2 linked regions of the Homo sapiens genome follow. The protein of the gene in region 2 interacts with the protein of the main gene of each other region in a pairwise test. Each region holds a gene or a part of one and is shown on either strand. Other genes may lie near its edges.

Region 1 (3,500 bases), on a different chromosome or scaffold from region 2:
TCTGCCCGCCTCGGCCTCCCAATGTGCTGGGATTACAGGCATGAGCCACCATGCCCAGCCTAGTAGCATATGTTTTTCTAAAGCAAATCCATGCCATTTCTAGGATGTGTGCTAGGTCTGTGGACATTTCTGGCCTCTCTAAAATTTCTTTACCATTTTTTCTCCAAAATTATCTTTCAGTTAAAATATAGCATACCCAGAAATCCTGGAAAAGAAAGATATCTAACTGCTTTTTAAAAATTACTGATATATAATTTTTTAAATGTTGTATTTAAAAAATACCAAATTAAATGTTTTTAAGGATCCTGTTTGTTTTCAATTTCACTTAGAAAATGATGCTATAGTTTAGCTTGAAATAATGGTCTAATTTTTTCCTCTTTGGCAAGATAATTTTAGATACTGAAAAAGCACAAAATAAATCTCCTTCTAGACTTGATTCCTTTGTCAAGACTTTGGAAGCAGACAAAGATCACTATAAGAGTGAAGCTCAACATTTGAGAAAGATGATGCGAAGTAGGTCTAAAAGTCCAAGACGCCCATCACCAACTGCCCGGGTAGGTTTTATAAACTTACAAATATTTTGGAGTTTGTTGCCCAGACACTGGCTTTTATTCTTTGTTTTACCTAATTTGAAAATAATTTGTTTTGATTTGCTGTGAATTGCTGTTTCAAAGGGGTTGAGAGACAGAGGTCTCTTTGATGGCACAGTAGACTACTGATATTGGTTCTTTATCCTCAGCATAATTAGCACTTGGGAGGTAATCAGGCAAATGTGGAATAATTTGGAATGAAGCTGTTTTAAAAAGATGTGGTTTTTAAACTTATTTTTTATAATTTCCTTTCATTATATAGTCTTATTTTCTTAAATAGAAATTGGGCACTACCATCAGTAGCACCTTTCTATCAGTACTATATATCAAAGAAGATTTCAAATTCCTTATATAATTATAGGGTGCAAACTGTGATGTAGAACTTTTGAAGACAACAACAAGAGATCGTGAAGAACTTAAATGCATGCTGGAAAAATATGAGCGCCATTTGGCAGAAATTCAGGGTAATGTCAAGGTTCTTAAATCTGAGAGAGACAAGATCTTCCTTCTTTATGAACAGGTAAACTTACAAAAAACAAATTATATAAGTAATAACATTGAGTTCTAGAGTTATGTAATTCTTCTTTGAGTTTTATGAGACTGCTTAAACCTGCAAATCAAGTTAATCTAACATTTGGGGATTACATATGTTTTTAAGATATTCTTAATGAAATGTAGTACATTTCCAATACAGTAGGTATGTGAGTACACACGTATGTTATCCCCATAGCCAAAAATCATACACATGTATAAAAATAGTCTTATTTTTGGAATAAGATATGAAGAAACCGTTAAATGATAAGTTGTTATGAGTTCAAGGTAAAAAGATCAAATCCTGACCTTTTTACCTTGAACTTGCCACACCTTATCACATCACTTTAGGAACTTTTATATAATTTGCTTAATTTTAGAGAATAAAAGAAGTATGTAGTTTATCTCTGCTTTCTAGCTTAGAATTGCATAGCTTTTATTAATCAAATACCTTCTTTAACCCAACAAGTATTAAATCCTATAAATCACCCATATAACTTCTTTTAAAAGTATCACAATTTTTTAACAAATTATAGCTACTATACACAGGGTTCTAGGCTCACTACTCTAAGGGATAGAAAAATGATAAGATGCTGACCATGTTTTCCTATAAATTTACAGTCTAGTTAGGGAGATAAAGTATATTGTATTTATTGATTTTTATTAAGTGGTCTAGAAGATATTATAAGAAACAAAAGAAGTGGGCATTTTTAGATATGGTGATCAAGGAAATCTTTATTAAAAGATACAAAGTGTGAGCCCTGAAAAATGAATGGAGTTTCTATTACCCTGAAAGGGGCTAGAAGGAACAATCCAAACTAAAGGAATGGTATGAGGCAAAGGATAAAGGTAGGAAAATCAGCAGATAAATAAATTGGTTTAAGACTAGAATAGAGGGTATGTGTCAGTGGAGAAGGGAGAGAGCTAAGACTTGAAAGGTAAGATTGCACTAGAGCAGGAATCAATATACTTTTTCTGTAAGGCCCAGACAAAAAATATCTTCTGCTTTGCAAGCCATGTGGTCTCTGTTGTAACTAATCAGCCCTATTGTTGTAGGGTGAAAGCAGCTTTGGACAATACATAAATGAATAACTTTGGCTGTATTACAGTAAAACTTTATGGATACTGAAATTTGAATTTCACATCATTTTTACTTGTTTTAAAATACTCTTTTGATATTTTCCCCAACCATTTAAAAATGCAAAAATATTTCTCCACTTACAGACCTACAGGAGGCAGGCTAGATGTGGCCTGTGAGTTATATATAGCTTGCTGACTTCTGGACTAAATGGTACAGGCTGTTCAATGGGCCTTATATGGGGTTTATATTTTGCTTCATAAGCAACAAACAATCTTTTTTTTTTAAAGGCAGGCAAAATATGAACAAAGTATCATTTTTACAATTTTACAATTTTAACCTTATGGCAAATTTTTATTTCTCACATAATCTTTCTATACTGTCTTCTTATTTAACAATTTCTCCTTTGAGAGAATTGATGGAGGGAGAGACCATGGACTCCTCTTTAGAAGGCTGTTACACTAGTGCACATATAAGGCATTAAGGGACTAAGCAAGGGTGTTTCAATGGAGATAAATATAGGGACAGATGCAAAAGACCCTGTGAAGGAAGATTTGACATGATTTGCTTTTAGGAAGAAGGAGGGTTGCATGACAGTGACTAAAATTCTGTCTTGAATGACTCAGCAATGTGGTAATAAAATAAAAAATAGGAGAGTCATTGGTGGTTTGAGGAAAAAGATGTGAGTTTGTTTTTAGACAGAGTAAGATAATGATAGCACACTCAGGTCGTAATTGCCATCAGACTGTAAGAAATGTGGGACTGGAGTAGAGAGAGGCAAGAGTTAAATAGTTAGCTTTGGAAGTCATCTGCTTAGAGGTGAGCTTCGAGCCTTCAGAGTGGATGAAGTCTCTGAATGAGAAAACTGTACATAGAGGAGCAGAAACGTTAAGTTATAATATTCAAGATGCAGAAGGGAACCTTTGAAAGAGACAAAGATGACAGACAGCTAGGGAGGAACAATGTTAAAAGGGAGGAAGGAATCTCAAGAAGAAGGATGTTGTGAGCAGCAACAGACCACTGAAATATCAAGGAGAACAGGAACTGAGAAAAGACCATTATATTTGGTTAGGTCTTTAGTTGAAATTCCACAGAAGGTGGGAGGGTGGGAGCCAGGTTGTTCTGGGGTGATAGAATGGATGGTAAGGAACCATTGGCAATAGTTATAGACCATGGGACTTTTTTTTTTTAATGTGTCGCAGGAAGAAGAGACATAGGATGGTAAATTGGTCAGCAGGATCAAGTGACAGGTTTTCAAGATAAGGGAGCACTGTACATGACTGAAGGCAGGGGAGAAAGTG
Region 2 (3,500 bases):
AGGCATGGCAGTGCGGAGCTGTGGTCTCGGCTGCTTGGGAGGCTCAGGTGGGAGGATCACTTGAGCCTCAGAGTTCCAGGCTGCAGTGAGCTGTAATTGCACCATTGCACTTTAGCCTGGGCAACATAGTGAGACGCTGTTTAAAAAAAAAAAGTGGCTGGGCGCAGTGGCTGACACCTGTAATCCCAGCACTTTGGGAAGCCAAGGCGGGCAGATCACGAGGTCAGGAGATCAAGATCATCCTGGCTAACACGGTGAAACCCCGTCTCTACTAAAAATACAAAAAATTAGCCAGGCGTGGTGGCGGGCACCTGTAGTCCCAGCTACTTGGGAGGCTGAGGCAGGAGAATGGCATGAACCTGGGAGGCGGAGCTTGCAGTGAGCCGAGATTGCACCACTGCACTCCAGCCTGGGCAACAGAGTGAGACTCCATCTAAAAAAAAAAAAAAAGAAAGAAAGAATAAAACTGTGAAAGGAAATACAAATATTTAGCAATAGGTATTTTACCCAATTTATAAATGAGTTCTTACGTTTTAATGAAAATTCAAAATAGATAACTCAAATTTAAAAAATAACAGTATAAATAATGTACGGTATAAAAGGTTTCATATTACTTTAAGGCATGTAATTTATTACCTTCATATTCAGACCTTCATCATTCACCAGTTTCTTTTTTTCTTATTCAACTTTTATTTTAGGTTTAGAGGCTGCATGTGCAGGATTGTTACATGGGTCAAATATCACTGGTGGGACTGGGTGTGCAAATGATTTTATCACCCAGGTGGTGAACATAGTAACCAATAGGTAGTTTTTAGACCCTCACCCTATTTTCACCATTCATCTTCAAGTATGACCAGTGTTTATTTAACTCTTTGTGTCTGTGTGTACTCATCGTTTAGCTCCCACTTATAAGTGAGAACATGCAGTATTTGGTTTTCTGCCACTGTGTTAATTTGATTAGGATAATGGCCTCCAACTACATCCATGTTGCTGCAAAGGGCGTGATTTTGCTTTTTTCTATGGCTGTGTAATTGTCCCTGGATGTATGTGTACCACATATTCTTTATCCATTTTACTGTTGCTGGGCATATAGGTTAATTCTATGACTTTGCTATTGTGAATAGTGCTGCAGTGAATATACACATGCATGTGTCTTTTTGGTAGAATGATTCAGATTCCCTTGGATATATATACCCAGTAATAGGATTGCTGGGTTGAATGGTAGTTCTGTTTTAAGGTCTTTGAGAAATCTCCAAAATGCTTTCCACAGTGGCTGAACTAATTTACATCCCCTCCAGCAGCGTGTAAGCATTCCCTTTTCTCTGCAACCTCGCAAACATCTGTTATTTTCTGACTTTTTTGTAATAGTTATTCTGACTGGATGGTTTTGATTTGCATTTCTCTAATGATTAGAGATGTTGAGCATAATTTTTCACACACTTCTTGACCATGTGTATGTCTTCTTTGGAGAAGTGTCTGTTCATATTCTTGCCCATTTTTTTATGGAGTTGTTTGCCATTTTTCCTTGTTGATTAGTTCAAGTTTCTTATAGATCCTGGATATTAAACCGTTGTCAGATACACAGATAGCAAATATTTTCTTGTATTCTGTAGGTTGTCTGTTTACTCTGTTGACAGTTTATCTTGTTGTGTAGAGGCTCTTTAGTTTGATTAGGTCCCACTTATTTATTTTTGTTTTTGTTGCGATTGCTTTTGGAGACTTTGTCATGAAATATTTACCAAGGATTATGTCCATAATGGTATGTCCTAGGTTTTCCTCTAGGGTTTTTATACTTACAGGTTTTACATTTAAGTCTTTTTGTTTGTTTGTTTGTTTGTTTTGAGACGGAGTCTCACTCTGTCGCCCAGGCTGGAGTGCAGTGGCGTGATCTCGGCTCACTGCGAGCTCTGCCTCCCGGGTTCATGCCATTCTCCTGCCTCAGCCTCCCAAGTAGCTGGGACTACAGGCGCCTGCCACCACGCCTGGCTAGTTTTTTGTATTTTTAGTAGAGACGGGGTTTCACCATGTTAGCCAGGATGGTCTTGATCTCCTGACCTCGTGATCTGCCCACCTCGGCCTCCCAAAGTGCTGGGATTACAGGTGTGAGCTACCATGCCTGGCCACATTTAAGTCTTTAATCGATGTTTTTTTTCTTAATTTTTTTATTTTTAATTTTTGTGGGTACATACTAAGTATGTATATTTATGGGGTACAGGAGATATTTTGATACAGGGATGCAATTTGTAATAATTACATCATGGAGAATGGGGTGTCCATCCCCTCAAGCATTTACCCTTTGTATTACAAATAATCCAATTATACTTAGTTGCTTTAAAGTGTACAATTAAATTATTGCTGACTATAATCATCCTGTTGTGCTGTCACATGCTAGGTCTTACTTATTCTTTCTGTTTTTTAAATACGCATTAACCATCCCCACCTCTTCCCTAGTCCCCCTGACTACACTTCCCAACCTCTGGTAACCATCCTTTGACTCATGTCCATGAGTTCAGTTGTTTTGATTTTTAGATCCCACAAATAAGTAAGAACTTGTGCTGTTTGTCTTTCTGTGCCTGGCTTATTTCACTTAGCTTAATGACTTCTAGTTCCACCCATGTTATTGCAGATGACAGGCTCTCATGCTTTCTTATGGCTGAATAGTTCTCCACTGTGTGTATGTACATTTTCTTTATGCATTCATCTGTTGATGGACACTTAGGTTGTTTCCAAATTTTGGCTATCGTAAACAGTGCTACAACAAACGAGAGTGTGGATATCTCTTTGACATACTGGTTTCCTTTCTTTTGGCTATATACCTAGCAGGAGGATTGCTGGATCATATGGCAGGTTTCTTTTTAGTTTTTTTTTGAAAGACCTTCAAACTGTTCTCCATAGTAGTTGTACTAGTTGACATTCCCACCAGCTGTGTACAAGGATTCTCTTTTTTTCCATATCCTTGCCAGCATTTGTTACCTTTTTTTGTCTTCTTTAACTTTCTTGGGGACATACAAGGTGTATATATCTATGGATTACATGAGATGTTTTGATACAGGTATGCAATGTGAAATAAGCACCTCATGGAGAATGGGGTATCAGGCATTTATCCTTTGAGTTACAATCAAATTACACTCTTTAAGTTACGTTAAAATGTACAATTAAGTTATCATTGACTGTAGACACCTTGTGCTATCAAATAGTATGTCTTTTTTATTCTTTCTAAGTATTTTTTTTTTGTCAGCCATTAACTGTCTCCACCTCTCCTCCAGCTCGCCACTACTTTTCCCCACCTCTGGTAACCATCCTTCGACTCTCTATGCCCATGAGTTCAGTTGTTTTGATTTTTATATCCCACAGATAAGTGAGAACATGCGATATTTGTTTTTCTGTGCCTGGCTTATTTTGCTTAACATCATGATCTCCAGTTCCATCCGTGTTGTTGCTGCAAACGACTGGATCTCATTCTTTTTTTTTTTTTTTTTTTTGGCAAAATAGTACCCCAG

What was found. Proteins that work in one complex are often made in the same cells at the same time.
Region 1: the proteins of ZNF670 (region 2) and TSGA10 interact in binary tests that used the Homo sapiens proteins (3 or more experiments, as listed by UniProt).

Annotation. Positions count from the first base shown.
Region 1 is NC_000002.12:99,106,443-99,109,942, reverse strand, and holds part of TSGA10 (testis-specific gene 10 protein), read left to right. Parts: intron 1-386; coding exon of another isoform or gene 387-503; coding exon 504-554; intron 555-951; coding exon 952-1,110; intron 1,111-3,500. UniProt on the Homo sapiens protein: Plays a role in spermatogenesis. When overexpressed, prevents nuclear localization of HIF1A.
Region 2 is NC_000001.11:247,068,812-247,072,311, reverse strand, and holds part of ZNF670 (zinc finger protein 670), read left to right. Parts: intron 1-3,500. UniProt on the Homo sapiens protein: May be involved in transcriptional regulation.